Linked DNA regions of Homo sapiens. The protein of the gene in region 1 interacts with the protein of each later gene in a biochemical or structural test. Each region holds a gene or a part of one and is shown in the gene's direction. Other genes may lie near its edges.

Region 1 (7,126 bases):
ACTGAAATTGTTTCCAGTACTGAAATACTTTTATTGTTCTCTGGATACTTTTTGCTGCTAATTAACATCTCTTTTTACAGGATTCATGAATAAAATTTTCCATCCCAACATTGATGAAGCGTAAGTAACTATTTTAAAATGTTTCAATTTTAGCAGCAACTGCTCATGATTAGTGTTTCTCTGTGTTATAAAAAGCCTCGGTTATCTTTTTGGACCTTATCAGGAGGTAGGACTGTATGAATGGTCATGTAAATGATAGAATCCAAAGGATATGAGGTTCTCAATCACTTAGTTCACATTCTGCTGTTGTACCACTTATTTTTTTCCATTGTCGTGACTGGGTCCTTCATTTTTCTTGTTACCCAGCAAACAGTAGTAATATTCCACATCTCACTTCTCTTTTTGTAGACACAGTTCAGAGATCTGTTTTCAGCCTACAGATAGACTATTTTCAGATCTTATAATATTTTCTCAATTCTTGATAGATAGTAAGGCAAAATGACTATAGTTTCATTTCAGTTAATGAATCTTATTTATCCCCTTCTTTCCTTCTAATATTTTATTAATGATACTTTAAAATATTCCAGCATATCCTGTTTTATACTTCTAGTGCTGTTTAGAATATATTATTGTTTGGGATGCAATTTTAATTTGTCATGGCACTAAGTTTTACTGTCTCTCACAAACATACCTAACAGGTTTTTCTGCACTCTGTGTGAGTAGGTTGTATATATACATACATCATGCCCCTTAGTCCTTTAATATTAATATTTTATTGTATCAGTTATCCTAACAAGGATATTCTCTTATCTATCCACAGTATATAGTTGTCAGATTCAGGAATTTAACGTTAATGCAATACTTATTTAATCTACTGCCATATTCCAGTAACTTACTTTTTAGCACTTTTTTCTTTCAATAAAGGATCCAGTCTAGAATCACACATTACATTTAGTTGTCATGTTTCTTTAAACTGCTTTAATCAGGATTAGTTCCTCAGCCTGCCTTTATCTTTTATAAAATTCACTTTTTAAAATAACATAGACCAGTTATTTTATAGATTGTTCCTCAATTTGTGTTTGTCTGATGTTTCCTGATCATTAGATTCAGGGCATGAACACACTTAAGGCCAGAAAACTACAAAGTAAGATGGTGTCCTTCTTGGGGTATCACATTCAGAGACACACAAGGTCTGTCTGCCCCTTGTGTTCTCAGCACCTGGTTCAGGTGTTGTCTGGTTTCTCCATTGCATAGTTACTATTTTCCCCTTTCAGTCTGTAAGGTGACACTTCAAGACCTGGTACTATTCTGTTCCTCATCATACTTTTCCCCAATTGGGATTCTTTTTTTCACAGATCTATTAGAAGTATTTCTCTTGATAAGTAAAAATTAGTTGCCAGATACATGCAACTAACTTTCTAATTTTTAAAAACATGCCATTCTTTCCATCTGTTTCAGGTCAGGAACTGTGTGTCTAGATGTAATTAATCAAACTTGGACAGCTCTCTATGGTGAGTTTGGCCATGGAATATTTTTTGGAGATGTTGAGACATTGCCTAAAAAAATGTTGTTTGGCTTTTCTTTTCTGGTTTAAGATGTTTTGTTGGTAATGGGAAGGGATTTTTGAGGGACCGACTGGGAAAGTTTGATCAGTGGAAAAAATGTTTTCTCTTAAGTACAAATATATCAGTTTAGCTGTGGAAGTTTAAAATGATTTTTTGAGATTCCAAACTTAAGGTATAGTGATACATGTGCACACACATGAGTACATGCGCACACACATGAATACATGTGCAAACATTTTATATGTATGTATTAGCACATAATATATACATATTTTGGTTTTGGAAAAAACTAAAACTACTTAGGAATGTCCCTCTGAAATGAGAGAGCAATGATATAGTAAGAGGTTTTAGGGGATCATCTTTTCAAAGACCAAAACCTCCTTATGAAGGAAGAGTAATTTAGCCTTACCTTCAGTGCTGAAATTGACACCCCATCTCTTACAGGGAATCAACAAATGAATTGCCCAGCTCTGCAAAATGCTATGCTGAATATCCCAGAGAGTTATAAAGAGCATCAGGCCTTTCCTCCTTATCACCTGGTTGGGGAGCTGAAAATATGTTAAAATACAGTCATCTCTTGGTATCTGCAGGGGATCAGTTCCCAGACCACCTGCAGATACCAAAATTCATGCTTACTCAAGTCCCACAGTCATCCCTGTGAAACCCACTGACATGGAGGGCTAGCTGTATTTATTGAAAACCACATGTGAATGGACCCATGCAGTTCAAACTGTGTGTGGACCCATGTTGTTCAAGGGTCAGTTGTGTATTTGAAGTTAATTAGGGATACAACAAATAAATCTGTTTTTCCCTCCACATGTCCAAATCTCAGGCTTCATAGAGTCTACCTACTCCAGTGCTCCTACCCCGTATACTTCCGCTGATTCTCCAGCTGGAAGTAATCTCTGGATACCATTACATTTTATAGCTCCTTTTTTATGGTCCACTTTTACTTTCTACTGTGTATTTGTTGTTTATGCCTATTTTTTTGTGCTACTAGATTATTTCCTATCTTAAGGGCTATCGGGTGTGTGTCTGATTCATCTGTAAGGCCCAGGACTCTTATCACAGTGCCCTTCACCAGTATGGGTTGAAAGAATGAATGGTACAGGTAACCATTGCTGAGAGGCACAAGAAAAGAAGGGAAAGCTCAGTTGAGGCTGAGCTTAACCAGGGATGGCTGCTTCTTGTTGAACTTGTACGACCTTTTAGTGGTCTGAGGTAGGTAAGACTTCTTAGTCCAGCCACAATCTGCAAGTTACTTTTGCCAGATATCCTTGAACTAGATTGGTAAATGAGAATCACAGAGAAAGGTTGGTCACCAGCAGAACACAGTTAATCCCTGCCTCCACCTGATTGTGCCGTTCAAAAATTATTTTCTCTACCTGGGATATTCCCCCCTGATCTTTGTGTGGTTAGCACCTTCTTCACTCATCTCACATATTACTTCCTCAGAGCAGTTTCCTTTCCCAGCTACTCCATCTGAAATCACACCCCTCCATAGCACAGCACCCAGTTGTATATATATTTTTTAATTTTAAAATTATTTTTTAATACATAGAAACAGAGTTGCACTCTGTTGCCCAGGCTGGAATGCAGTGGTGCGATAATAGCTCACTGCAGCCTTGAGCTCCTAGGCTCGAACAGTCCTCCCATCTCAGCCTCCCCAGTAGCTGGGACTATAGGTGCATACTACCATGCCTGGCTAGTACCCCGTTTTCAATAAGCTTCTAAAACTGGTATTTGTATATTATTTATCTTATCCCCTTGGATTGTAAGCACCATGAGTGAGGACTTTGTCTTGTTCTCGTCTCTCTCTCTCTATACACACGCACACGCACACGTGACTGTAACAGTGCCTGGTGCACAATAAGGGTTCGACTATTTGTTGTCTTAATGAGTGAATTAATCATGTCCAGAACTGTTTAACAAGAGAGTTTTAGGGGAGATGATGGCATATAGTTGAGGCAACAAGAAAGAACATACACTCCGAGCTTGATTAAATGGATTCCTTTTAAGATGGTTTTTTTGGTAAAAATGTCTCATGGCAGGCTGCCTGGAATATCTGATGTAATGATGTGTTTTCTTAAACTACATTCACATCTTAAAAATGTACATATCAAAATACTGCAATCTGGTTCCAATTACAATGAAGTAAATTGATGTTTAGTTTTGCTAAAGCTTTTACCATTGACCAGAAAAGCTTTGTGAAAGATGTTTGCTGACTGTCAAGTACTTCATGTCTCAGAACAGGTTTTTTAAAAAAATAACAGTTTCACTGAATTATAATTCACAGACATGCAAATCACCCATTTAAAGTGTGTAATTCAGTAGTTTTTAATACATTCAGTTATATGCAGCCATCACCACAGTCAATTTTAGAACATTTTCATCACCTCAAAAATAAATGTGTACCCTTTAACTATTCGCCCTAGGCAACCACGAATCTGCTTTTTGTTTCTGTGGATTTGTCTTTTCTGGACACTTCTTAGAAACGTAATTATATAATATGTGGTCTTTTGTGACTGTTTTTTTTTTCACTTTGCATAATGTTTTCAAGGTTGATCCGTGTTGCATGTATCGGAAGTTCTTATGGCTGAATAATATTTCATTGTGTAGATAAACCACATTATTTGTCAGATAATAGACATTTGGGTTATTGCTGTCTTTTGGCTATTATGAGTGTTATAAATATTTGTGCACAAGTATTTGTGTAGACATGTTTGCATTTCTCTTGGGTATATACCTAGGAGTGAAATTGCTGGATAATATGTTTAACTATTTGAGGACTGATAGACTACTTTGTAAAGTGGCCAACATGAGTAAGTTTTCATCACATTTATAAAATGTTAGTGTACTTACATTAGCTTGCAAAGCATTTAATAAGCAGCAAGAGTTAAACCACGTTGGTCCAAGTGAACTGAAAGCAGACTTCTGTGTTACATGTGTATGAGTTACTGAACATGTTCCATAATACAGGAGTGTGAGCACACTAACAGGTAAGTGCAGGAAAACAAGAAGAAATATTTTCAGAGTATAGTCAAAAGTACACTGAGCATGGGAGAATTGTTTTGACATTTTGCTCAAAACTATTTCTGAAGAAAATTCAACATTTCTTTCACGGAAAGTTTTAGGAACAGGTAAATACAATTATATAAAGTACTGGTAGAATATGTTCGTTCAGATGACCTTGAAGTGTTTTTTCAGACTTATCTGAACTTGAGATCTGAACTGAATTTTTATTAGAAACTGTTAAAGCCTCTGGCATTGAAGGTTAGTTCATAATTGGTGAGTTCTGAATCACTTCATTTCCTGCAGTGGTTCCTGAGAGAATCTTAGTTCAAAGGACTGCCCCCGCCAACCCCTGCCCCGCCAAAAAAAAAAAAAAAAAAAAAACTAACACTAAATAACTAATAGGAGAAAGTTGGCGTGTCAACATAAATATTCAACTGAAAAGCAAAAGGCTAAGCCTGGCACCTAAAACTTGTTTCAACACTTTCCTCTGCTGTAGATTCGATGAGGGAGCAGGGAGTGGATTGTGAAATTTCCTGCCATTTACCTTGCCCCAGGACATGTACTGTTCTGTGGGTATACATATTTGTAGCGTAACAACAATTCACAGTTGAAATTTCAGATGTATGTTAATCATAGCCTGATATTAAACAACATTCATGTTAGCAGTAAATTTAGTCCTCTGTCCCCTCACACCCTTCCCCGCCATTGATTTCTGGTAAGCCAGTTGACTCATTGCTTCTGTTCTTATCCTGTTTTCTCTTTGCCAAGTGTATGTGCAATTTGTTTATTCAGAGTTCAAAATTGGTATAATTGTGGTTTACTCACCCAGTAATTTTTAATTTTGTATTATTTAACCTTACAAGAGAGCTAATTATAGTGAGGAATCGGATTAATTTTGTAAGATGCTTGCCATCAGTATGAAGTTATCAAGTATGAAGTTATCTATTGTTATTGTTATGACATTAAACAGAAAGTAGCAGATGACCAAAGTGATTTTGGCTTCCTGCATGATAGCATCTTTTTTTTTGCATCCCTTCCTGCTCTTCCAGACAGCAGTGACAGAAGCTCTGAGAAACATAAAATGTAGCCAAGGGGATCTGGATTTCCATTTCAAAACAAATTAATTTTAAGGACTGATAGGAGAGTTCATTAAGCCACAGGTAGCTTTTTAAGCACTCTTCTATTTTCCAGTTTTCCTTTTTTTCTCCAAAATATATTTTATCTGTAGTTGGCTTATCACCCTGCACTCCTGGGGGCCCAGGTGCCTTCACTGCGATACAGCTTTAATCTCTCTCTCATCCCACCCTTCTGGACCAGGCATGCTTGATCCCTGCAAATGTGTTTCTCTCTCCAGCTTTCATTTTACTCATTCTTTGACTGCCTTCGTAAATTATTTATATGATGGATTAAGTTGTAGGCTGGGCACGGTGGCTCATGCCTGTAATCCCAGCACTTTGGGAGGACAAGGCAGGCGGATCACCTTAGGTCGGGAGTTCGAGACCAGCCATAACCAACATGGAGAAACCCCATCTTTATTAAAAATACAAAATTAGCCAGGCGTGGTGGCGCATACCTGTAATTCCAGCTACTCGGACAGCTGAGGCAGGAGAATTGCTTGAACCCGGGAGGCGGAGGTTGCAGTGAGCCCAGATTGCACCATTGCACTCCAGCCTGGGCAATAAGAGCAAAACTCCATCTCAAAAAAACAAACAAAAAAAAAAGTTGTGGAGAAGTGAGGTGGAAGACAATTTTCTTATGAAATTGGGCAGTTTACATTTTCACTCTTAGGGTTGCTAGCCAGTGGACTAGATACTTCTACTCTTATTTTGCTGGAGAGAAAAATCAACATTTGGGAAAAGTCTTCCCCTAGAGTTATCTGGGGAGTTAGTAACAGGCAAATAAAATTGACTACAACAGAAGGAATACTTCAAGGACTTTGAGATTAGGCAAGAGATACAAATTTTTTTTTTTTTTTGAGACGGAGTCTCGCTCTGTCGCCCAGGCTGGAGTGCAGTGGCACGATCTCAGTTCACTGCGAGCTCCGCCTCCCGGGTTCACGCCATTCTCCTGCCTCAGCCTCCCGAGTAGCTGGGACTACAGGCACCTAAAATTTATTTTACCAGGCATTTAGAAATTTAAAATACAAATTTAACACTTATCCCATCCCCTTTTCAGTTAGATAGTCTGTGAATCTTCCCAAATAATTCAGATTTTGGCAGAAGGTATATCTTAAAATAATGCTTTATGCTGGATTAGTGCATGCTGTTTCCTAAACATTTTAGTGTAACTACACAGATAAGAAATACATGTATGTGTCTTCATGGATGATTAATTGGCCAACTACTATTTGAACAGCTTGAGAACTTCAGTATTGATCTGTCCATGTTGAATCACAAACGTCATCCTGCCTTTGGAACAGCTGGATGTCATTATTTGTAGATAGAGGCCAAGTAGAGCAATTCTGTCCAGTACTATTGGGATAATGTCACCTGTTGTACATAATAAAGAAATGTGCTCAGTTGTGGATTTGCGCTTCAACAGTGCTT
Region 2 (7,901 bases), about 86 Mb from region 1:
TGACCTCACCTGATCTGCCACCCCGGCCTCCCAAAGTACTGGGATTATAGGCGTGAGCCACTGCGCCCAGCCAGCACCAGTTTTTAAAAGTCAGGCTGAGTGCGGTATAGTTGCCATACTGTAAAATTCACCCTTTTCAGTTCATAATTCTATGAATTTGACAAACACAGTCTTGTAACCTGTAACTCCCACCACAGTCAAGATAGAGGACATTCCATCACCCCCAAATGCCTTCAAACTCTTTGTAGTCGACCCCAGCTCCCAGCCTTGCCCATCACTGGTCTGTTTTCTATCCTATAGTTTTGCCTTTTCCGAGTTGTCATATAAATGGGATCAGAGCATATGTGTCTCCTGCCACTTAGCATGAGGCACTGAAGACTCACCCAAGCTGCTGCATTACCGGTTCCCTTCATCTCAATGTTCCTTAGCATTCCATGGGATGCACACACCAGTGTGTGAAGCTGTTCCCTGGGTCAAGAACATCTGGAGTGTTTACAGTTTTGGGTGATTAAGAGTAAAACTTCACAGAATCATTTTTAATGGCTGCATAATATTCCACAGTATGAACACAGCAACATTTATTCCACCAGCTCTTGGTCACTGGATATTCAGGTGGTTCTCAGCTCTCACTTTTACACGCGTAAGCTTCTTGTCAGGGTCTCCATCTCCCTGAAGGGTCCCCTCCCTCTAGAGCAGTGAATCTCAACCTTGGCCACACATCAGTCACTGGGGAACTTTAAAAATGCCAATGTCGGCCGGGTTTGGTGGCTCATGCCAGTAATCCCAGCGCTTTGGGAGACTCAGGTGGGAGGACTGCTTGAGGCCAGGAGTTTGAGACTAGCCTGGACAACATAGTGAGAGCCCCCATCTCTACAAAAAATAACTTAAAAAAATTAGCCAGGCGTGGGGGCACATGCCTGTAGTCCCAGCCACTCAGGAATCTGAGGTAGAAGTACCACTTGAGCACAAGAGCCAAGAGTGATTGTGCCACTGCACTCCAGCCTCGGTGACAGAGTGAGACCTTGTCTCTAAAAAATTAATAATAATAAATAAAATGCCAATGCCCAAGCCATATCCAGACCAATTAAACTGGATTATTTGGGGAGGGGCCTGGGCCTAAGTATTATTTGGAGCTCTTAGGTGTACCCTGCTCCACTGTACTCTGGAGAGGGGATGGTCTGGACCTGTGGGGGGTGGCCACTGCTGCCCCTGTGGCAGTCCCTCTCCCTCCCCAGACCCACTCCTCACTGCCTTCCCACAGTGACCACCACAGACAAGTACAGGGAAACCAGGCCCATTGAAGATGGAAACTCAAAGACAATTTCCAATGTGCAGGAGATAATCTAACCATCTCCTTTCAGTGGGATCTTTTCCATAGCTCAAGGGCCACCCTCTGGGAAGGGCAACTCCTTCCAAGTGCCTCTTGGACACACCCAAGTCCTAACCTGCCCTCGCGACTATGCCTCTTGTTTAAGCTGCAAAAGCTACCTCCAGTCCTGGGGATATTCTTGGCCCTAGTATGGCTCCCCACTGCGCCCCACCCCCATCTTCCAGTGGGACACCCTCCCTCACCCCTCCTCCAGCAGGTATACCTCCCACATCCTCAAGCAGGGACCCCCTCCCCAACCATCCTCCAGCAGGGACACCCCCTCACCATGTTCTCCAGTGGGGGCACTGTTGCAGCAGAGAAAGTTTTGTAATTGCAGGGCCAGACAAGCAAGGAGGATGAAAGATAATTCTCAAAACCACCTCCCCCAGAATTCAGAGGCTAGTGTTTTTAAGGGTGCTTCAGCAAGCAGGGGACTAGGGAGCTGAGACAACTGATTGGCAGTGGATGAAATCACAGAGGTATCAAAACTATCTTCAAGCAGCTGAGTCAGTTTCTTGGTGTGGGTCACAGGTCCAGGTAGTGTCTCTTGGTCTGCTAAAATTCTAAATCTAGAAAATATCTCAAAGTTCTTTAGGTTTCATAATAGTGATTTTTTTTTTTTTTTTTTGAGACGGAGTCTTGCTCTGTCTCCCAGGCTGGAGTGCAGTGGCATGATCTCAGCTCACTGCAAACTCCACCTCCCAGCTTCAAGCAATTCTCCTGCCTCAGCCTCCTGAGTAGCTGGGATTACAGGCATGTGTCACCACTCCCAGCTAATTTTTTTGTATTTTTAGGGAGATAGAGTTTCACCATGTTGGCCAGGCTGGTCTCGAACTCCTGACCTCCAGTGATCCACCCGCCTTGGCCTCCGAAAGTGCTGGAATTACAGGTGTGAGCCACTGTGCCCGGCCTCTATATGAGCAGCTGGAGAAGTTAGAAATCTTGAGATTTCCGGCTATGTGACTCCAGGGCAGTAAGCATTATAGAAAAGCAAGCCAAGTGAGAAACGGCAGGTCGCTGTTTATGCCCATTCTTTAGCAAAGTTCAGGCCCCACCACAATTCTAACCTTGTCTTATGAATGTGGTTTCAATCTCCAAACAAGGAGGGGGTCAGTTTTTCTTGCCTTTAACTATGAACTAAATTCCTCTCATAGTTATGTTGGCCTCTGCACTACAAGAAGAAGAAGAAAAAAAAAGAAATAAGAAAACCAATTTAGTCTGTGAGGTTAGATGCAAGAGGGAGGCAGTCATGTTAGATTTCTCTCATGACTTACAATTCTGCAAAGGTGGTTTCACCTCCACGGCAGGCCACCTCTCCCTGGGTATAGGGCACATCTTCGTCCTGCAGAGCAGGCAAGTCCCTCTCTCTCCCCACCTCCTCACCCCTTCTTGCCCCCACTGGCCAATCTTCATGAATCCTTCAGCCCCATGTTGTCCTAGCAGACACTTTGCAGCAACCACTCAGAGGGCCTGGCTGATTTCTAAGCTAGGCAGTTTCTTCCACTGTCATTTGGATGAGATTCCTTGCACAAACATTTTTGCACAGTTGCCCAGTGTTTTAAGTATTCAGGTCTCATAGTCTTAAAAACTGCCTCTGCCTTCCCAGGAGAGAACAAGGGCTCCAAGGGGAGCCCAGGTGCTCTGGCCAGACAGAGGACATTAAAAGGAACAGAAATGGTTTTAGACAGCTAGAGGGATCTGCTCAGGGGATATTTGGGCAGAGCCTCCTCCTTGAGAAGGGTAGGAGCCAGATCCACAGACGAAGACCCTTAGAGCCTGCCCATCCCTGCTGGCACAAGGGGAGGATGGGGAGAGAGGGACCATACGCAGGCCTCCTGGCTTCTGTATGTGGGTCCTGAGGCCCAGGAAGCTCTACAGCCCTGAAGAGGTAGATGAATTAGGAGGCTGGGAGATGGTGTAGGAGGTCAAGAGGATGCCTGGGCTGAGCCATCTCCCCCACTCCCCTCAGCCCTGTGCTCTGAGTGCAGAGATGGGGAAGAGCCAGCCCACTAAAGATGTCAGAGAGGAGCCAAAGAAAAAGGATAGGTGCTCAAGGAGTCTGGGGCTCAAGACTGAGGACGATGGGGCAGTGATGAGGAGAGGCATGTGGAAGGGGGTTGCATCTGATCTGGTGTCCCATCAGTTAGGCTGAGCAGTGCCACACTACCGTAACAGAGGTTACAAATGGAGTATATCTAAATAAGATAGACAGAAGACTTGATATTATCAAGACATCAGATTTCCCCAGCTTGATCTATAGATTCAATGCAATCCCAATCTTGGGAAAGGAATTGCTGGATCAATGTGTATTATTTTGTTTTCATTTTGTTGGATGTGGTTGCCACATTGGCTTCCACAGTCCTTCCTATGGATTGCCAATTACCTCGCACCTTCAACATGTGTGGTCAATTTTTTTGAATGTTTGATAAACCCACAACTGAAGATATTCTCATTTAGGTATTCTGTAACGACTGGACAGGTTGGGCACTCTGGTCATAAATTTATTGACCAGGATTTCTTCTAAGAATCATCTACGTGAGTTTTTTTGCTAATTTTTCTATTAAATTATTGTCTTTTTATCTATGGACAATTTGATAAGATTATCATGAGATAATCTTAATTCCAAAATATCTCACACTTTATCCCAGTTTATCTTCTGACTCTAATTTTTAATCAGATTTAAAATTTGTCTGTAGTCCAGTTTATCATTCTTTTCCTTTAGTGTTTCCAAGTTTATTGTGATATTTAGATCATAAAAACATTCACCGACTTTTTTCCAGTACGTTGTTGGTTTCCTTTTTAGATGGAAATGTTTGACCCATCTGGAATTTATTTTGGTGTTAAGGAATGAGGAAGGGCACCAACTTCTATTTTTCCAAATGGCCTGCCAGTTGTCCTAATGCCATTCGACTGAAAAATCTTCCCGCGTGTTTGAAGCGACCGCCCCACCAGCGCATTGGAAACCCGCGTGTCGGTCCTGCGCCCGCCGGCTTCCGTGTGACAGTCCCGAGCGCAGAGGGATCGGGCACAGCCCGCACGCGTCCGCCCCGAGCCGCCGGCTCAACCCTAGACCCAGCCCCGGCGCCAAGGACACAGCCCACCCCGCTCCGCCCGGGCCTAGGTCCCAGTTCACCCTCCCTAGCCGGGGACGCCCCCTTGACCCCGCCTCCTCCACCCCCTCCAACACCCTCCCCGCCCCGCTCCAGCCCAGCCTCTCCTCCCGGAGGCCAATGGGGCCGAACAGCGCTTTCCGAGACATTAATTTAAATAAAAGGCGGGTCCTCTGCCGTTATTTGCATGGAGGCGGGTCTTCCGGAGCGGCCGGGACACCCAATCCTGTAGGAGCCCGGACCCTCCCCAGCGCTCCGACTGGCCCAAGTAGCGAGCCCCACGGAGAGGCCTCATTTGCATAGGGCGGGGCCACGTCCTCTTCCAGCCGGCGGCCGCCCGCCCGCCCACCCGCTTCCGTCAGCCTCACTGGGGCTTCCTTCCGTCTCGCTCGGAGTTTCCCTCTGCGTTCGCTCCGCGCTGCTGGAGGCTGTCGTCCCAATGCTCCCCAAACGGCGGCGAGCGCGGGTCGGGTCCCCTAGCGGCGATGCCGCTTCCTCCACGCCGCCCTCGACGCGCTTCCCGGGAGTCGCCATCTACCTGGTCGAGCCTCGCATGGGTCGCAGCCGCCGGGCCTTCCTCACAGGCCTGGCGCGCTCCAAAGGCTTCCGCGTCCTTGACGCCTGCAGGTGCGGGGCGGCGCGGCGCGGCGAGGGCTTCCATGGCACTTCTGGTTTTGGATTCTAAGTTTGCAGTGGCACTTCGTGGTCTTGTGACCTTTCCCTGAGCCTCCATCTCCTCTTCTGTAAAGGGTGCTATTAATTAGGGCGAGGCGTGTTTTAAAGGATCACTGCGAGAATCAAAACCAGAGGTCAGGGGTAATTAATAAGCAGTAGGCCGGGCGCGGTGGCTCACGCCTGTAATCCCAGCACTTTGGGAGGCCGAGGCGGGCAGATCACGAGGTCAGGAGATCGAGACCATCCTGGCTAACACGGTGAAACCCCGTCTCTACTAAAAATACAAAAAATTAACCGGAGGTGGTGGCGGGCACCTGTAGTCCCAGCTACTCGGGAGGCTGAGGCAGGAGAATGGCATGAACCTGGGAGGCGGAGCTTGCAGTGAGCCGAGATCGCGCCACTGCACTCCAGCCTGGGCGACAGAGTGAGACTCTGTCTCAAAAAAAAAAAAAAAAAAAGTCGTATTTGCTAACAGCCCTTCTGCCTGGGCTATGTCCCACCTGTGAGCGAGACTGACTTCTCAAGAGGCCCGGAGCCCGCAGGCTCCTCTGTCCTCAGGCCTGAGTAAATAACACGACTGAGAAGCTCTTGTAGGAAGGGAACCAAGAGAAGAAAAAATGGCGGCTACAGAGACAACACCCAGAGTAAGGGAGCTGGGGGTGCCCCCTAGTTTGGAGGTTGAGAGAGCAAACGAACCTGGGGCTAGTATTCCCCCACAGTTGTGTTTGATTTTTTAACATTACCAGGGATCAGTAGTGCGCCAGACCCACTCAGGAGAGGATGATAGCAGCTTAGAGTGTACAAGGCACTATCTTTGTACAACAACCCCACAGGGTGGATATGTTATCTCTGCTTTACAGAAGAGGAAATCAAAGTATAGACACGTGGCTTGCCCAAGAGCCAAACAAGTATGTGGCAGGCAGAGCTGGGGTTCAGACCCAAACAGGCTCCTCCATCTCTGCTGAAACCCTTGCTCTTAGATGAAGACCACCTGGTCCTGACCCTAAGGAATTCCTTTCTTTGAGGTGAAGAGGGAGGGAGAGAGCACAAGACTGGGCTGTGCTTGTGAACATAGCCAGGGCAGAGAACTACGGTTCTGAGGGCTGAGTGGTGGAGGTGTTCATCTACCAGGAGGAGGGGCTGGGAAGGCTTTCTGGAGGAGGTGACGTTTGCAGGATGAATGGTCACTTACCATGCAGAAGGGACGGCAAGAGTGAAGGCTTGGAGCCAACCAGGACGGGCTCTGGGCCTCACCCTCCTCCTTCTCTCCCAACTCCCTCCACCAGCTCCGAAGCGACACATGTTGTGATGGAAGAGACCTCAGCAGAGGAGGCCGTCAGCTGGCAGGAGCGCAGGATGGCAGCTGCTCCCCCGGGTTGCACCCCCCCAGCTCTGCTGGACATAAGCTGGTTAACAGAGAGCCTGGGAGCTGGGCAGCCTGTACCTGTGGAGTGCCGGCACCGCCTGGAGGTGAGCTGGGTGGAAGACTAAAGTGGGGGCTACAGTGAAAGCCCCAGTGTAGGCCATTGCTCAGCTGGGACAGGTGACATGGCAGCAATGCCTCAATGTCCTTCAGAGGAGGTGGGCAGTGAAGACTCTACCCAGATCACCAGGGGCCCCCTATAAACCAGTAGAGGAACCACAGAAGGGGCTGAGGGGGCCAGGCCATCTCAGCTTCTGTTCTCACCACTGATGCAAATTCTGGGGTCTGCTTATTTTTACCTTCTTCAGGCCTTTCTTCCTCACCAAGTAGATGACACAGCAACTCCGAGCGGGATGACCCATGGGTTAGCAGGAGCCTGTCCTCTGGATGCTATAAGGCTCCCGGCCTCTGACAGGTGTGGGCTTGGGGCCAGGTTGCCTGCCTTCAAATCCTGGCCCAGCCTGTGAGCCATGGTTGTGGGGCAAGCCCCTAGCCTCCAAGGCCTCAGCATCCCCAGCCCGCTTGGTTGTGAGGATTGGGGTGATGGAGTACATGCATCATGTGCAGCAGCAGGAGAAGTGCCCACAGGGCTGGCAGATGTGATTGCTGCTACCCTGGCATGAGGAGCCCCATGCACAGCCTGTTCTGCAGGGCGGTGCCTCCCTCAGCCTCATGCCGCTGGTGTTTTGTTGCCCACCTCTGTCCCATGAGCTCCAGAGGGCCCGAGTTGGACACCCCAGGAGAAACAAAGCCTGAGTACGGCCTGGCTCTCCTGCCAGCCCTGCAGCCTCACAGTGACCTGTTTATTGCCCATCCCCAGGTGGCTGGGCCAAGGAAGGGGCCTCTGAGCCCAGCATGGATGCCTGCCTATGCCTGCCAGCGCCCTACGCCCCTCACACACCACAACACTGGCCTCTCCGTAAGCCGCTTCTATGAGCCTTGGCCAGCCCTGGGGGTTGGGGACAAGGGTACAGATGGGTGGTAGGTGGGGGATTGGAGCTGCCCACCCTGCCCCTTACCTAGGGCCCCTCCCTGCAGGAGGCTCTGGAGATACTGGCCGAGGCAGCAGGCTTTGAAGGCAGTGAGGGCCGCCTCCTCACCTTCTGCAGAGCAGCCTCGGTGCTCAAGGCCCTTCCCAGCCCTGTCACAACCCTGAGCCAGCTGCAGGGGCTTCCCCACTTTGGAGAACACTCCTCTAGGGTTGTCCAGGTAGGTGCTTACCATCCTAGCAGGGTGAGTGGGTGGGTGGGGAGGCCTTGGGGCCTGGTGAGACAGCAGAGGGTGCTGTGGGGGTGGGTGAGGACAGACAGTCGTGGGTGCTGAC
Region 3 (7,435 bases), on another chromosome or scaffold:
GATCAGAGCTCACTGCAGCCTGAAATTCCAGGGCTCAAGCAATTCTCCTGCCTTAGTATCAGCAGCTGGGACTATAGGCACATACTACCACACTAGGCTAATTTTTTTTTTTTAAGAGCTGGGGTCTCACTGTATTGCCCAGGCTGATCTTGAACTCCTGGGCTCGTCATCCTCTTGCCTTGGCCTCCCAAAGTGCTGGGATTATAGGGGTGAGTCACTGTACTTGGCCAGATTGTTATTATTTTTTAAACTGGATTCCACTAAAAAAACCTACAGTCAGAAGACTAGTAAGTCATTATTTGAGAAAACTGGTCTTAACCTAGACACAGTAGTTTTGTGTGAATTTTTGGTTGGAATCATGACAGTATCTTGGAGTTAAGTGTAAATACACATGTATTCTCCTTGACTTTCATTGACAACTTAGAAACAACTATTTTGGAACTGGAAAAAACTCCTTGCAGGTACTCTCAGAAAATTAATTTTCCTAAGGAGCCAGCCTCAGTGGCTCATGCCTGTAATCTCAGCACTTCTTGAGGCCCCAGTGGGAAGATCGCTTCAGCCCAGGAGTCTGAGACCATCTTGGGCAACATAGCAAGACGCTGTCTCTACAAAAAATAAAAAATATTAGCCAGGCATGACGGTGCATGCCTGTAGTCCCAGCTACTCGGGAGGCTTAGGTAGGAGGATCACTTGAGTCCTGGAGGTCAAGGCTGCAGTTGCCGTGATCATGCCACTGCACTCCAGCCTGGGTGACAGAGTGAGACCCTTATCTCAAAAAATAATAATAATAAAATTTTTTTCCCCTAAGGTTTCCCAATGACTTCGGTAACATAAATATATGTTGTCCTGTATTCTCTCTTGTACTCCCAGTATCAATATCTGGCATGAAGCAACAATGCTAATGCTCAGAAAATCTGTTAAAATATGCATGCTCATCTTTACACAGCACATACTCTGATTTTGTTAAACTATCATTCCACTATCAACTCTGGTATTCATTTCTAGGGCAGAGTATATAGCACAAGAATCCTTGCGTAGGCAATTAGTAGCAATGGGAAACTGATCCTTATTTAGTAAATGTTTACTGAGCTCCTAAATAGTACCAGCGACTCTTCTGGGCACTGGGAATTCAAGTATGAACAAGTCTAACAAATTCCTTGTCCTCAGAGATTGTAATGTGAGAAGAGAAAAAAACACATTAAAAAGATGTCTGGCAGTGTTAAGGGATATGCAGAAAACTAGACAGTAAAATGATAGTGTGTATGTCTGTGGAGGGTGTGCCTTGAGCTGCAGTGTCAAGGAAGGCCTCTCTAACGCGACAGGTGATCTTAGGGCAGAATTTCTCTAGACATTCTCTGTATCCAAATAACTGTTCTATTTTTATCACAGAGTAGACTGGACTAACGCCGAAAGCCGGGGCGTGGTGAACCAGCCGCCCTACCTGCAATGTGCGGCCTGGTAGGATACTGTTCCAGAAGTAGCTTGGGCTTTTCAAATCCATCCACTTGTTGCAGGCGACTCTCTAGTTCCTTAAGCCTTACTTTCTTCATTTTGTTTTAAAGTATGGACTCGTAGGGTTTGAAGGCACAGGATCTGCGGAGAAATCTATTGAACTGGGATCTTGTTTCCTCCCTACCCCCAACCTTCTCCCTTTTTCAGCACCGCTGGCCGGACCCGAAGACGCGCCCTAAGGAGACGCCCGGACGCAGGGCACGGGGCGAGCCTCTGACCCACCTCCCGGCTAACCCAAGCCGCCCCAGGAGACGGCGGCGGCGCACTGCTGGAGCAGCCTCAGGATCCCTCGCGCCACGACCACGCACCTCTGGAGGCGACCCGCACCTCGGCCGGTGCCGGAAGCGCCAGGCCGCACGCGCGCACGCGTTCGCCGCCCAGCGGCCCGGCGCCGAGCTGCAGCGTTTATCTTGAGCCGGGGTTCCGCTGGCCACCTGGGGGCCTCATTGCCCCATCCCCTCCGCCTGCAAAGCCTGCGCTACTTGCTGACCCACCGCCAGTCCTCGCCGCCTGTCGCGTGCTCATTACCCTCTAGTTTGCCATGAGTACCTGCGGGCCCTCAAAGGATGGGGAAAGACAGAGTGAAAGGGATGCGGGAGAGAAAGTCACAGTCACTTTGTTGTATGGCCCAGAGTGACTCTTCTTGTTTCCCAAGTCTCGGCTCAAAAAGTAGCGATCTCCATTCACCTTTACCTCCTTCTCCATTCTCATGCCTTATTTTATTGTAACTTTGTTTCCCAATTTTTAGGTCATTTGTGTCACTTGCAATTCTCACAGGAGTGGTGATGTCAAAGAAACCCAAAGAAGAGATAGTGGAGAGGCAGGGCGCGGCGGCTCACGCCTGTAATCCCAGCACTTTGGGAGGCCGAGGTGGGTGGATCACGAGGTCAGGAGATTGAGACCATCCTGGCTAACACGGTGAAACCCTGTCCCTACTAAAATTACAAAAAAATTAGCCGGGCTTGGTGGCGGGCGCCTGTAGTCCCAGTTACTCGGGAGGCTGAGGCAGGAGAATGGCGTGAACCCGGAAGGCGGAGCTTGTAGTGAGCCGAGATCAAGCTACTGCACTCCAGCCTGGGAGACAGAGCGAGACTCCGTCTCAAAAAAAAAAAGACAGTGGAAATGAAAATAAAAGAATAGGTAGTGGTGTCAAATACTGGAAAGAGGTCGGGCTTCATAAAGTAGGAGCAGAAATTAAGTTGTAGCAGATTGTGGAGCGAATGGAAATTTAGGAAGAAGAAAGAGTAAATGTGAACAATTAAACGTGGCCCCGGAAGCGGTGGCTCACCCCTGTGATCCCAACATTTTGGGAGGCCGAGATGGGCGGATTGCTTGAGACGGGAGTTTGAGACCAGCCTGGGCAACATAAGGAGACCCTGTCTCTACTAAAAATACAAAAATTAGCTGGGTCTGATGACGCGAGCCTGTGGTCCCAGCTGCTCGGGTGGCTGGGGTGGGAAAATCGCTTGAGCCCGGGAGGCAAAGCTTCCAGTGATCTGAAATTGCGCCACTGCACTCCAGTCTGGTCGACAGTGAGACCCTGTCTCAAAAAAAAAAAAAAAAAAAAGAAAGAAGAAAAGAAAGAGAAAGAGAAAGGTGGCCTACGAAAAGAATGGTTGGATGCTTAGTAATGGGGGAAGCTTTATTATTTTTTCAATTATTTTTAAGACAGGAGGAGACAAATTCTGACAAGAATTGAGCTAATAGAAAGAGAGGGGTTAAAAATGCAAGAGGATATTGGATGGAGTTGGGATCCTGAGAAGGCAGGATCCAGTGGTTAAGTAAAAGGATTGCAGGATTGCGTTTAAGCCTGTGGATGGACACCTCTTTGCATTATTATAGGAAGAAGAAAAAGAGTGAATGGACGATGACGAAGTAGAGAAGTGTCTGAGGCTGCTACTTCTAGGAATAGCAGAATTCAAAGTTATCTGTTATGAGAATCAAATGAGTTAAAACATACAAAGTTTTAGCATGTAAAGTTAATACATAAAGTTTTATTTAGTTTATAATTTAGTGATTCGTAAAATTATTGAGCAAATTTAACTTATCACTGTTATATGATGATCGTGACATACTTAACTCATGTAGAAGACCAGGAATAACCTGTTTTAATTATGTTTCATTCATTTCAAACACAAGGTTATGGATTGGAAACACTCCTGTTCTTCTTTGTTGTTGTTGTTGTTGTTGTTGTTTTTAGAGACGGAGTCTCGCTTTGTCACCCAGGCTGGAGTGCAGTGGCGCGATCTCGGCTCACTACAACCCCCGCCTCCTGGGTTCAAGTGATTCTCCTGCCTCAGCCTCCGGAGTAGCTGGGATTACAGGCGTGCGCCACCATGCCCGGCTAATTTTTGTATTTTTAGTAGAGACAGGGTTTCACCATGTCAGCCAGGCTGATCTCAAACTCCTCACCTCAAGTAATCCGCCTGCCTCGGCCTCCCAAAGTGCTGGGATTACAGGCGTGAGCCACCGCGCCTGGCCTTCTGTTCTTCTTTGGATTGCTTTTCCTACAGTTTTTGTTTTCCTTAAGTTGGGGTTTCATTCTGTCGCCCGCTGGACTTTGATAACAGTAGGAATGTACATCTCAGACAAAATGCAGATGCCTAAAGTACATCTGAAAGATGATGTGAATAATTCCTGTAGTCTATGCAAATAAAGAAATAATTGCCCTTATTAAAGATTTCCTATAAGGTGAGTACTTTATTTCAGTAGCTCTTAACTTAGAAAGTTGGGAGCCTAGCTTGGTCCACAGGCGCCCAGGAGAGAGGGGCGGGAGGAAGGCTCTGCAGCCCGAGGGGGCGTGTGTAGGGGCGGGGCTGCGGGCGGAGGAGCGCGGACGCTCCGGGTATCGCGAGAGTTGGGCGGGCCGAGCAATCGCAGCAGTCTATTCCCTCACTCTCCCTGGAGGAGCCGCTGGCCCTGGACTCTCCAAATTCTGAGCTCTCATCATGGCGGCGGCGGCCGCGGCGGCCGTCGGGGGCCAGCAGCCGTCACAGCCCGAGCTGCCCGCGCCGGGGCTGGCCCTAGACAAGGCGGCCACCGCCGCGCACCTCAAGGCGGCCCTCAGCCGGCCGGACAACCGCGCAGGTGCTGAGGAGCTGCAGGCGCTGCTGGAGCGGGTGCTGAGCGCCGAGCGGCCGCTGGCCGCGGCTGCCGGCGGCGAGGACGCGGCGGCGGCCGGAGGCGGGGGCGGTCCGGGGGCGGCCGAGGAGGAGGCCCTGGAGTGGTGTAAGTGCCTTCTGGCGGGCGGCGGCGGCTACGACGAGTTCTGCGCGGCGGTGCGGGCCTACGATCCCGCGGCGCTCTGCGGCCTGGTCTGGACAGCCAACTTCGTGGCCTACCGCTGCCGGACGTGCGGCATCTCGCCCTGCATGTCGCTGTGCGCCGAGTGCTTCCACCAGGGCGACCACACCGGACACGACTTCAACATGTTCCGCAGCCAGGCCGGGGGCGCCTGCGACTGCGGGGACAGCAACGTGATGCGGGAGAGCGGGTGAGTGGAGCCCTCCCCGCGGGCGAGGCGACCCTGGGCCGGGGACGTCGCGGGAGGGCCTGGAGCGGAGCACTGGGAGCCCACTCTGAGCTGTCAAGGGGAGGGTGCGGGGGAGGGTGCAGCCACAGGGGGATGGAGGTGACTGAGCTGTCAGCGGTGGAAAGGGGGTGGGGAGGAGAAGGAGGGGAGAGGAGAGCGGAGAGCATGTTTAGGAAACCGGGCTGTGAATTTTGGGGAAGCCAGGGTGGGTAAATGATAGCGAGAAAAGAGCCAGTGTATGGGGTAGGAGGGGAGTGAGGGGAAATGATTTTTGGGGAAGCTCGTGTCGAGCTGTCAAGTGTGTACTTGTTGGGAAAGGCTGTAAAGCCTGGTTCTTGGGAAGAGACTTAGGTTGTGATTTGGATTGGCTGGGAGGGGATGTTATTGGGGACCGTATTGGCTCGCGGGATGATGAGAGCTGGGGAGGTGGTCTTGTACGTGCAGGGAAGGACGCTTGAGGAAAAGGTCTTCTGAACTGCCAGTGTGTCTGTCACTGTGAGAGAAGGAGCTCTTGAGGGTTGAGGGAGGAGGGAAGGGGAGGGGCCTGCATGAAAAGTGACTGTTGAGCTGTCAGTGGATTATTTGGTATGCTGGAATGACATTTAGAATTGGGCTACTGAGCAGTCAGTTACAGAATACCCTCCATACCAGGAGAACAAACAAAATACTGAGCGAACCAGGAATCAAGTGTTAGGTCTTCTCCAGTTAAGGGCACTTTGTTCACTCACTGATACGTGAACCTCTGTCTAAAAGGAGACAACAAATGCCCTTTTGACAGAAGCGATGCATCAGATGTTGGGACTTATGAGAAAAGACATTTCAGAGTTTGCAGTGAGTTACAGAGAGTTGGTACATGTAGGGTCGTGGCTTGGAACATGATGTCAATGTCAGGGACAGTCTGAGAAAAAAGGAAAAAGTGAAAGGGGCGATTTTGGATGGGCAGTAGTTGAAAGAATATTAGCAACTACAGGTTGCTATCAGTTATTAAACTTCTTCAATTTTCAGGTCTTAGGATTAATGACAGAGTACAATCTTTTTATAAATGGTCACCTTTTTCTTCGGAGTACTTGTAAGGTTACTGTTACTCCAAAATGTTTGTACCTACTATGTGCAAGCAAGGCTTCTTGGATATTAAAAATGAATGAAACATTGACCAACCCCTTACTCTACTTGCACTGGAGTAGAAAGTAATAAATTCCTTAAACAATAACTTGGTAGCTAGAGGAGGGAGATGAGGTTTCTGTGCAGAGGGAGTAAGAAAAAGTCTTCAGAAAGGAGGTATTTTGAATTTGCTAATAATAATAACAACATAATTGCAGCTAACATTTGAGTTTTTTTTTTTTTTTTTTGAGACGGAGTTTCTCTCTTGTTGCCCAAGCTGGAGTGCAATGGCGCGACCTCGGCTCACTGAAACCTCCGCCCCCTGGGTTCAAGCGATTCTCCTGCCTCAGCCTCCCAAGTAGCTGGGATTACAGTCATGCACTACCACGCCTGGCTAATTTTGTATTTTTTTAGTAGAGACAGGGTTTCTCCATGTCGGTCAGGCTAGTCCCGAACTCCCGACCTCAGGTGATCCGCCCGCGTCGGCCTCCCAAGTGCTGGGATTACAGGCGTGAGCCACCGCGCCCGGCCAACATTTGAGTTCTTGAACTGTATGTCTGATACTTTAAAAGTACTTTTTAAAATTTAATATTTGAATAGGTAAAATATATAGCTAAAAAGTACACACACACACACACACACACACACACACACACACACACGGAAGTTTTTCTCACATCTAGTCTTCTATCTGTCCAGTTCCTTCCCGCTTAGTTTCTCTTGGTGCAGAACAAGCAAAGATGTTTCCTAGTTTTTCAGTCTCTTTTTATGCAAAGGGTTACATACTTTCCACTGTTCTACATCTTGCATTTTTTGGTTATCTTAGATGTATTTTTCCTATTAAAAAATCAGTGTCGTCATTCTATTTTTTTAAAAAAACTGCTGCATAGTGTTCCATGTTTTCAATTTGCCATTCTTTAATTTCTTTTTTTATTTTTATTTTTATTTTTTGTGCGTGTGAATTTGCCATTCTTGATTTAATGTCTCTTCATGGGCATTTGGCTTTCCAGTATAAAATTAAAAACGTGGTGTATCTGTCTTTTCCCCACCTGGTCAAGAGAGTCAGTGGGATAAATTCTCAAAAGTGTGATTTCCAAATTGCCCTCCCTAAGGCTTAGTACTAATTACTCTGTGAGACTGCCTGTTTTCCAACAGCCTCATCAACAGAGTAGTAGTAAAATTTTGGACTTTTATCTATTTGGTTAAAAGTGGCCAAATTCTAGCTGTTTTATGTGATTTAACTTATTTATTCTTTGACTCTGAGATTATTACTTTTATTATTCTCATTGT
Region 4 (7,051 bases), on another chromosome or scaffold:
AAATAAATGAAATTATCTGCCAGGCACAGTGGCTCACGCCTGTAATCCTACCACTTTGTGAGGCCGAGGCAGGAAGATCCTTTGAGCCCAGGAGCTCAAAACTAGCTTGGGCCTCATAGCAAGCCCCGTCTCTATTATTTAAAAATTAAGGCCAGGCACAGTGGCTCACGTCTTTAATCCCAGCACTTTGGGAGGCCTAGGCAGGTGGATCACGAGGTCAGGAGTTTGAGACCAGCCTGGCCAATACGGTGAAACTCCGTCTCTACTAAAAATACAAAAAAACTAGCTGGGCATGGTGGCGTGCACCTGTATTCCCAGCTACTTAGGAGGCGGAGGCAGGAGAATCGCTTGAACCCAGGAGACAGAGGTTGCAGTAAGCCAAGATTGCACCACTGCACTCTAGCCTGGGCAATAGAGGGAGACTCCATCTCAAAATAAAATAAAATAAAAAATTGGCTGCGCGCGGTGGCTCAGGCCTATAATCCCAGCACGTTGGGAGGCCGAGGCGGGCAGATCACGAGGTCAGGAGATCGAGACCATCCTGGCTAACATGGTGAAACCCCGTCTCTACTAAAAAATACAAAAAAATCAGCCGGGTGGGGCGGCGGGCGCCTGTAGTCCCAGCTACTCGGGAGGCTGAGGCAGGAGAATAGCGTGAACCCGGCAGGCGGAGGTTGCAGTGAGCCGAGATCACGCCACTGCACTCCAGCTGGGCGACAGAGCGAGACTCCGTCTCTAAATAAATAAATAAATAAATAAATAAATAAATAAATAAATAAAATATCATTCGCCACTAAAATGAACCAGGGCTCTTCGGAAAAATGGTTGAGTCCAGGCCTGGGGCAGGCAAAAGACAAGACAAGTCAGCCTGGAAGAGTTTGTTGAGCCAGTTAGTAAGGAAATGCCCCAAGATGGAATTAGAAAATCACCATTTGGGGCCGGGCGCGGCGGCTCACGCCTGTTATCCCAGCACTTTGGGAGGCCAAGGAGGGCGGATCACCAGGTCAGGAGATCGAGACCATCCTGGCTAACACGGTGAAATCCCATCTCTACTAAAAAAAAATACAAAAAATTAGCCGGGCGTGGTGGCGGGCGCCTGTAGTCCCAGCTACTCGGGGGGCTGAGGCAGGAGAATGGCGTGAACCCCGGAGGCGGAGCTTACAGTGAGCCGAGATCGCGCCACTGCCCTCCAGCCTGGGCGACAGAGCAACGCTCCATCTCAAAAAAGAAAATCACCATTTGGTTGCTATTATGGTAATAACTGACTCAGGCAAGGGTCATCAATTGATATTAAGCTCTTGGAAACGGCGTGTGTTGAGGAACAGGCTATTTAATTACTTTCGAAGTATCTCCCCAGAAAGCACTTATTAACAAAGTGTAAAGTCAGGTGCCGTGGCTCATGCCTGAGGTTAGGAATTTAAGACTAGCCTGGCCAACATGGCGAAACCCCATCTCTACTAAAAATACACAAATTAGCTGGACGTGGTGGTGCGGGCCTGTAATCACAACTACTCAGGAGGCTGAGGCAGGAAAATCACTTGAACCGGTGGCGGAGGTTGCAGTGAGCAGAGAGGGCGCCACTGCACTCCAGTCTGGGCCACAGAATGAGACTCCATCGCCAAAAAAGAAAAAAAAAATTGGTCGGGCGTGGTGGCTCCTGCCTGTAATCCCAGCACTTTGGGAGGCGGAAGTGGGCAGATCACTTGAAGTCAGGCGTTTAAGACCAGCCTGACCAACATAGTGAAACCTGCCTCTACTAAAAACACAAAAATTAGCTGGGCGTGGTGGTGCGGGCCTGTAATCCCAGCTACTCGGGAGGTGAGCCAGGAGAATCCCTTGAACCTGGGAGGCAGAGGTTGCAGTGAGCTGAGACCACACCATTGCACTCCAGCCTGGGTGACAGAGTGAGACTCTGTCTCAAAAAAAAAAAAAAAAAATTAAAATTAAATAAAATATTAAAAACAACAACAACAACAAAACACCACAGTGTAACATACTAACCTCACACTGGAGAAACTGGCAGACACCATTTGAACCAAGTTAGCACAATCGATAGTGGACAAAATCAGCATTGTATGCATCCTGAAAACACAACGTCACATCTGTTTCCTGCCACAAATGCAAAATCATGAGAAAGTATTAGACAAATAGCAATGGAAGGACTTCCTGCAAAATTACTAGCCTGGAATTTTTGAAAAATATTGATGTCATGGAGAGAAGGTAAGATTGATAAAATGTTCCAGAAAGAGAGACTAAATTAGAGTCGTTAACAACAAAATACAATGCTTGATCCTGGGATGGATTTGGGATTTTTTGTTTTTTGACACAGGATCTTGCTCTGTTGCCCAGGCTGGAATGCAGTGGTGAGGTAATGGCTCACTGCAGCCCAGAACTCCTGGGCTCAATTGATCCTCTCACTTCAGCCTCCCAAGTAGCTGGGACCACAGGAGGATGCCACCACAACTGGCTAATATTTTTATTTTATTTTGTAGAGATGGGGTCTCACTGTGCTGCCCAGACTGATCTCAGACTCCTAGACCCAAGAGACCTTCCTGCCTTGGGCTCCCAAAGAGCTGGGATTGCAGACATGACTCACTGTGCCTGGCCTGGACTTTGGATTTTTAAAGGACTTTATTGGAAACTTTTCTTTTCTTTTTTTTGAGACAGAGTCTGGCTGTGTTGCCCAGGTTAGAGTGCAGTGGCAAGATCTCCGCTCACTGCAACCTCCACCTTGCAGATTCAAGCAATTCTCCTGCCTCAGCCTCCTGAGTAGCTGGAATTACAGGTGCCCACAACAAAACCCAGCTAATTATTTGTATTTTTAGTACAGACAGGGTTTCACCATGTTGGCCGGGCTGGTCTCGAACTCCTGACCTCAAATGATCCAAGTGCTGGGATTACAGGCATGAGTCACTGCACCTGGCCTTTGAATGGGCTCTGGGAATTACATGATAATATTAGATGAACATTAATTTTCTGATTTTGAAGGTTATACTGTGATTATGTGCAAAAGTGTGCTTATACTAAGTGAACATATAGTGCAGTATTTTTTTAAAAATTGATCTGTCTTAGAGATGGGGGTGGGTGAGTTTACTATGTTGCCCAGACTGGCCTCGAACTCCTGGGCTCAAGTGATCCTCTTGCCTCAGCCTCCAGAGCAGCTGGGACTACAGGCCTGGGCCACCACACTTGGCTAACTTTTATTTTATTTTATTTTATTATTTATTTATTTATGTATTTATTTGAGACAGAGTCTCACTCTGTCACCCAGGCTGGAGTGCAGTGGCGCGATGTCGGCTCACTGCAAGCTCTGCCTCCCGGGTTCACGCCATTCCTCTGCCTCAGCCTCCCGAGTAGCTGGGACTACAGGCGCCCGCCACCACGCCCGGCTAATTTTTTTGTATTTTTAGTAGAGACGGGGTTTCACCGTGTTAGCCAGGATGGTCTCGATCTCCTGACCTCGTGATCCGCCCGCCTCGGCTTCCCAAAGTGCTAGGATTACAGGCGTGAGCCACCGCGCCCATCCTTTTAAATTTTTTGTAGAGACGGGAACTCACCATGTTGCCCAGGCTGGTCCCCAACATCTGGCCTCAAGCGATCCTTCCGTCTCGGCCTCCCAAAGTGCTCCGATTACAGGCATGAGCCACTGCACCCGGCCAGTCTCAAAAAAAAAAAAGTTAAATTCTGCAGAGGTTTTATTTATTAGAGGACGCTGGCCGTCTGCAGGTGGCGCAGCAGCACCCCCTCGTGCCTGGGGCGGGGCTGGGGCGGGGCCAGTGCTGGGGCGGAGCCGGAGCTGGGGGCGGAGCCAAGACGCGGCAGGGGCGGAGCCAGCAGCTGCGGCACAGCGGGGCCTGTGCGGCCCAAGTCGTCCCTGTGGCCTCCGGCCCCGCCTCTTAGGGCGGGACGTGCAAGGCGATTGGCGAATGCAGGCGAGAGGCGGTCGCTATTGGTCCGCGGCGCTGTCGGCTCGGCGGGCGGTGCCCGGACGCAGGTGCCGGCCGGAGCGGAGCTAGTGGCGCCGACGGGCCGGGCCGGGCCGGGACCGGGGCCGAGGCGAACCGAGGGGCCTGTGCGGCCGCCCGGCCCGGCCGCGGATCAGGTAGGCACGGGCCTGCAGGTAGGGCCGGAGGACGCCAGTCCGCGGGCCGGCCCCGGGTTCGAGGCCGGAGCTCGGCACCCGGGCGGGACGGCTGGGCTCGATCCCTTGGCCACAGCCTTCTCGGGGACGCGGGGACCTCAGTTCCCGTGTCAAGGCCGGTGGGAGGTCTCCGGGGTCCGGCACACATAGGCGCCTCTCCGAGCCTCGGTTTCCCCACCTGTGAAACTGGGTCATCCCATTGCCAACCTGATGGGGCTTCTGGGAGGATTCAGGAGGTGGCTGGTGCAGAAAACGCCTGACACACAGTAGGCAACTGCTAAGTGGCCAATGCCCTTCCCCAACCTCCTTCTCAGAGCGGCTCTGCCTGCAAAATAGTAAGTTATAATATAATGACCCAGCCACTTTGCACAAAGATGCTGAAACAGGATGCCCTGTGCTATGTGGGTGCTCAAAACGGGGTAGTCAAATGGGCATGTTGAGCTCATTCAGTTCTTTTGAAACCATACTGAGTAGGTGGAAGCAGTAGAAATGTCCCCTGTTATACAGTTGAGAGAGTCCAGGCTCAAAGAGGTTAAGTGTCTTGCCCAGGGCCACACAGCACATAAGGAGTAGAGCTGGGATTGGAACCTTGCTTCTCATGCAGGGAGGAATGAATGCAATAACAACCTCCACATTTACCCTAAAAAATATTAATAGAGCTTTTATTGAGCACTTACTGTGTGTGCCAGGGTTGACTGTGTGACCTCTCATCAACAACTCTGTAAGCTGATGATAGTAATTATAATAAGAGCTAATAGTTATTAACTTCTTAATTTTTTACTAATTTATGAACTACATATCATTATGACTCCCCGTCTTTTTTTTTTTTAGACAGAGTCTCTCTCTCTTGCCCAGGCTGGAATGCAGTGGCACGATCTGAGCTCATTGCAACCTCTGCCTCCCAGATTCAAGCGATTCCTACCTCACCCTGGTCAAGTAGTTGGGATTACAGGCCCCCGCCACCGTGCCTGGCCAATTTTTGTCTTTTTAGCAGAAACGGGGTTTCACCATGTTGACCAGGCTGGTCTCGAACTCCTGGCCTCAAGTGATCCACCTTCCTTGAACTCCCAAAGTGCACAAAGTGCTGGGATTACAGGCGTGAGCCACTGCGCCCGGCCTGTAACACTCATTTTAGAGATGATAATACTGAGGCTGAGAGAGTAAAACAGCTGCCTGAGACCACAATGTAGGGAGTTTTAGGGCCCTCTGATTCCTCTGCCCTCTGTTTCCTACCTTCAGGAAAAGGAGCCTGGGCAGGTATGGAAAAGACTGGGGGGCCTCAGTGCCACCCTAAACAAGCCTAGCTAAGGGTGAGCTTTACTGGATGAATTCAGCCTGGAGGCTCCTTCTCAGGAGACCCCTCCACGGACAGAGTCCACCAGCTCCATCATTAGAATGAGGCCCAGAGAAGCAAAGTGACTTGAACCAGGACACCCAGCATCGGTGGCATAGCCAGGAGGGCCAGGAGTTAAAGAACCCAGGTCTCTTGAGGTCCAGAACCACTCCCTGGACTGTTTTAAGTTCAAATTCTGACACCACCCCTTCCTAGCTATATGACCTTGGGAAAGTAGGTGCCTCTCTCCGAGCTTCAGCCTCTTTCCCCATCATAGGGTGTAATTATTGGTTTGTTGTGAAGACTCAATGAGATCTATCTCCAGGCCGGGCGTGGTGGCTCATGCCTGTAATCCCAACACTTTGAGAGGCCAAGGCGGGCAGATCACTAGGCCAGGAGTTCAGGACCAGCCTGGGCAACTTGGCAAAACACCATTTCTACAAAAAAATACAAAAATTAGCTGGATGTGGTGGTGTGCAGAGCTACTCAGGAGGCTGAGGTGGGAGGATCACCTGAACCTGGGGGCGGTGGAAGCTTCAGTGAGCTGTGATTACTACACTGCCCTCCAGCCTTTTGGGTGACAGATTGAGACCCTGCCTCAAAAGAAAAAAAAAAAAAAACAGACAAAAGAAAGAAAAGAAATAGGCCAGGCGCGGTGACTCATGCCTGTAATCCCAGCACTTTGGGAAGCCAAGGCGGGTGGATCACCTGAGATAAGGAGTTTGAGACCATCCTGGCCAACATGGTGAAACCCCGTCTCTACTAAAAATACAAATAATTAGCCAGCTGTGGGTGGAGGGCACCGGTAATCCCAGCTACTCTGGTGGTTGAGGCAGGAGAATCGCTTGAACCTGGGAGGCGGAGGTTGCAGAGAACCGAGGTGGTGCCATTGCTCTCCACCCTGGGCAACAAGAGTGAAACTCCATCTCAAAAAAAAAAAAACAAAAAAAACAAAAAAAAAAACCAGACAAAAGAAAGAAGAGAAATAAATCTCCTGGGCACTGGGCCAAGTTTGCTGGAGCCATCAGATCACTCTCCCATTTCAGCAGCCTCAGAGCTGAGTCCGACTTGCAGTCACCCTCTCTTTGTGTCCAGCCTCAAGTTTGGCCTCTTCCAGGCCTGGGCCTCTGTGGTTTGAGTGGACCTCTAGCCTCTAAATATCTCTGATGCCCACCACAGGGGCTGGCCGACCAGGATCGGAGGGTCAAGAGATGTGGCTCTCTCACGCTGTTCTTAAACGGAGTGAGGATTGAGAAATGACTACAACATGGCCAGGCACAGTGGCTCATGCCTGTAATCCCAGCACTTTAGGAGGCTGAGGTGGGCGGATCACGAGGTCAGGAGTTCGAGACTGGCCTGGCCAACATGGTGAAACCCTGTCTCTACTAAAAATACAAAAATTAGCCGGGTATGGTGGTGGGTGCCTGTAATCCCAGCTACTCGGGAGGCTGACGCAGGAGAATCCCTTGAACCCAGGAGGTGGAGGTTGCAGTGAGCTGAGATCGGCCACTGTACTCCAGCCTGGGCGACAGAGCGAGACTCTGTCTCAAAAAAAAAAAAAAAAAAAAAATGACTGC

The links.
Region 2: of the proteins of UBE2H (region 1) and POLM, one has a biochemical effect on the other in vitro, tested with the Homo sapiens proteins (one study listed by BioGRID).
Region 3: the proteins of UBE2H (region 1) and UBR3 form a complex in vitro, tested with the Homo sapiens proteins (one study listed by BioGRID).
Region 4: the proteins of UBE2H (region 1) and MARCHF2 form a complex in vitro, tested with the Homo sapiens proteins (one study listed by BioGRID).

The regions. Positions count from the first base shown.
Region 1 is NC_000007.14:129,851,896-129,859,021, reverse strand, and holds part of UBE2H (ubiquitin-conjugating enzyme E2 H), read left to right. Parts: intron 1-80; coding exon 81-120; intron 121-1,458; coding exon 1,459-1,511; intron 1,512-7,126. UniProt on the Homo sapiens protein: Accepts ubiquitin from the E1 complex and catalyzes its covalent attachment to other proteins. E2 ubiquitin conjugating enzyme that transfers ubiquitin to MAEA, a core component of the CTLH E3 ubiquitin-protein ligase complex.
Region 2 is NC_000007.14:44,079,456-44,087,356, reverse strand, and holds the start of POLM (DNA-directed DNA/RNA polymerase mu), read left to right. Parts: upstream 1-4,826; 5' UTR 4,827-4,918; coding exon 4,919-5,106; intron 5,107-6,440; coding exon 6,441-6,624; intron 6,625-7,397; coding exon 7,398-7,496; intron 7,497-7,615; coding exon 7,616-7,786; intron 7,787-7,901. UniProt on the Homo sapiens protein: Gap-filling polymerase involved in repair of DNA double-strand breaks by non-homologous end joining (NHEJ). Participates in immunoglobulin (Ig) light chain gene rearrangement in V(D)J recombination.
Region 3 is NC_000002.12:169,823,048-169,830,482, forward strand, and holds the start of UBR3 (E3 ubiquitin-protein ligase UBR3), read left to right. Parts: upstream 1-4,406; 5' UTR 4,407-4,460; coding exon 4,461-5,005; intron 5,006-7,435. Other genes in the region: rRNA N(6)-adenosine-methyltransferase METTL5, read right to left, coding at 1,442-1,550. UniProt on the Homo sapiens protein: E3 ubiquitin-protein ligase which is a component of the N-end rule pathway. Does not bind to proteins bearing specific N-terminal residues that are destabilizing according to the N-end rule, leading to their ubiquitination and subsequent degradation.
Region 4 is NC_000019.10:8,409,319-8,416,369, forward strand, and holds the start of MARCHF2 (E3 ubiquitin-protein ligase MARCHF2), read left to right. Parts: upstream 1-3,986; 5' UTR 3,987-4,102; exon of another isoform or gene 4,103-4,476; intron 4,477-7,051. UniProt on the Homo sapiens protein: E3 ubiquitin-protein ligase that may mediate ubiquitination of TFRC and CD86, and promote their subsequent endocytosis and sorting to lysosomes via multivesicular bodies.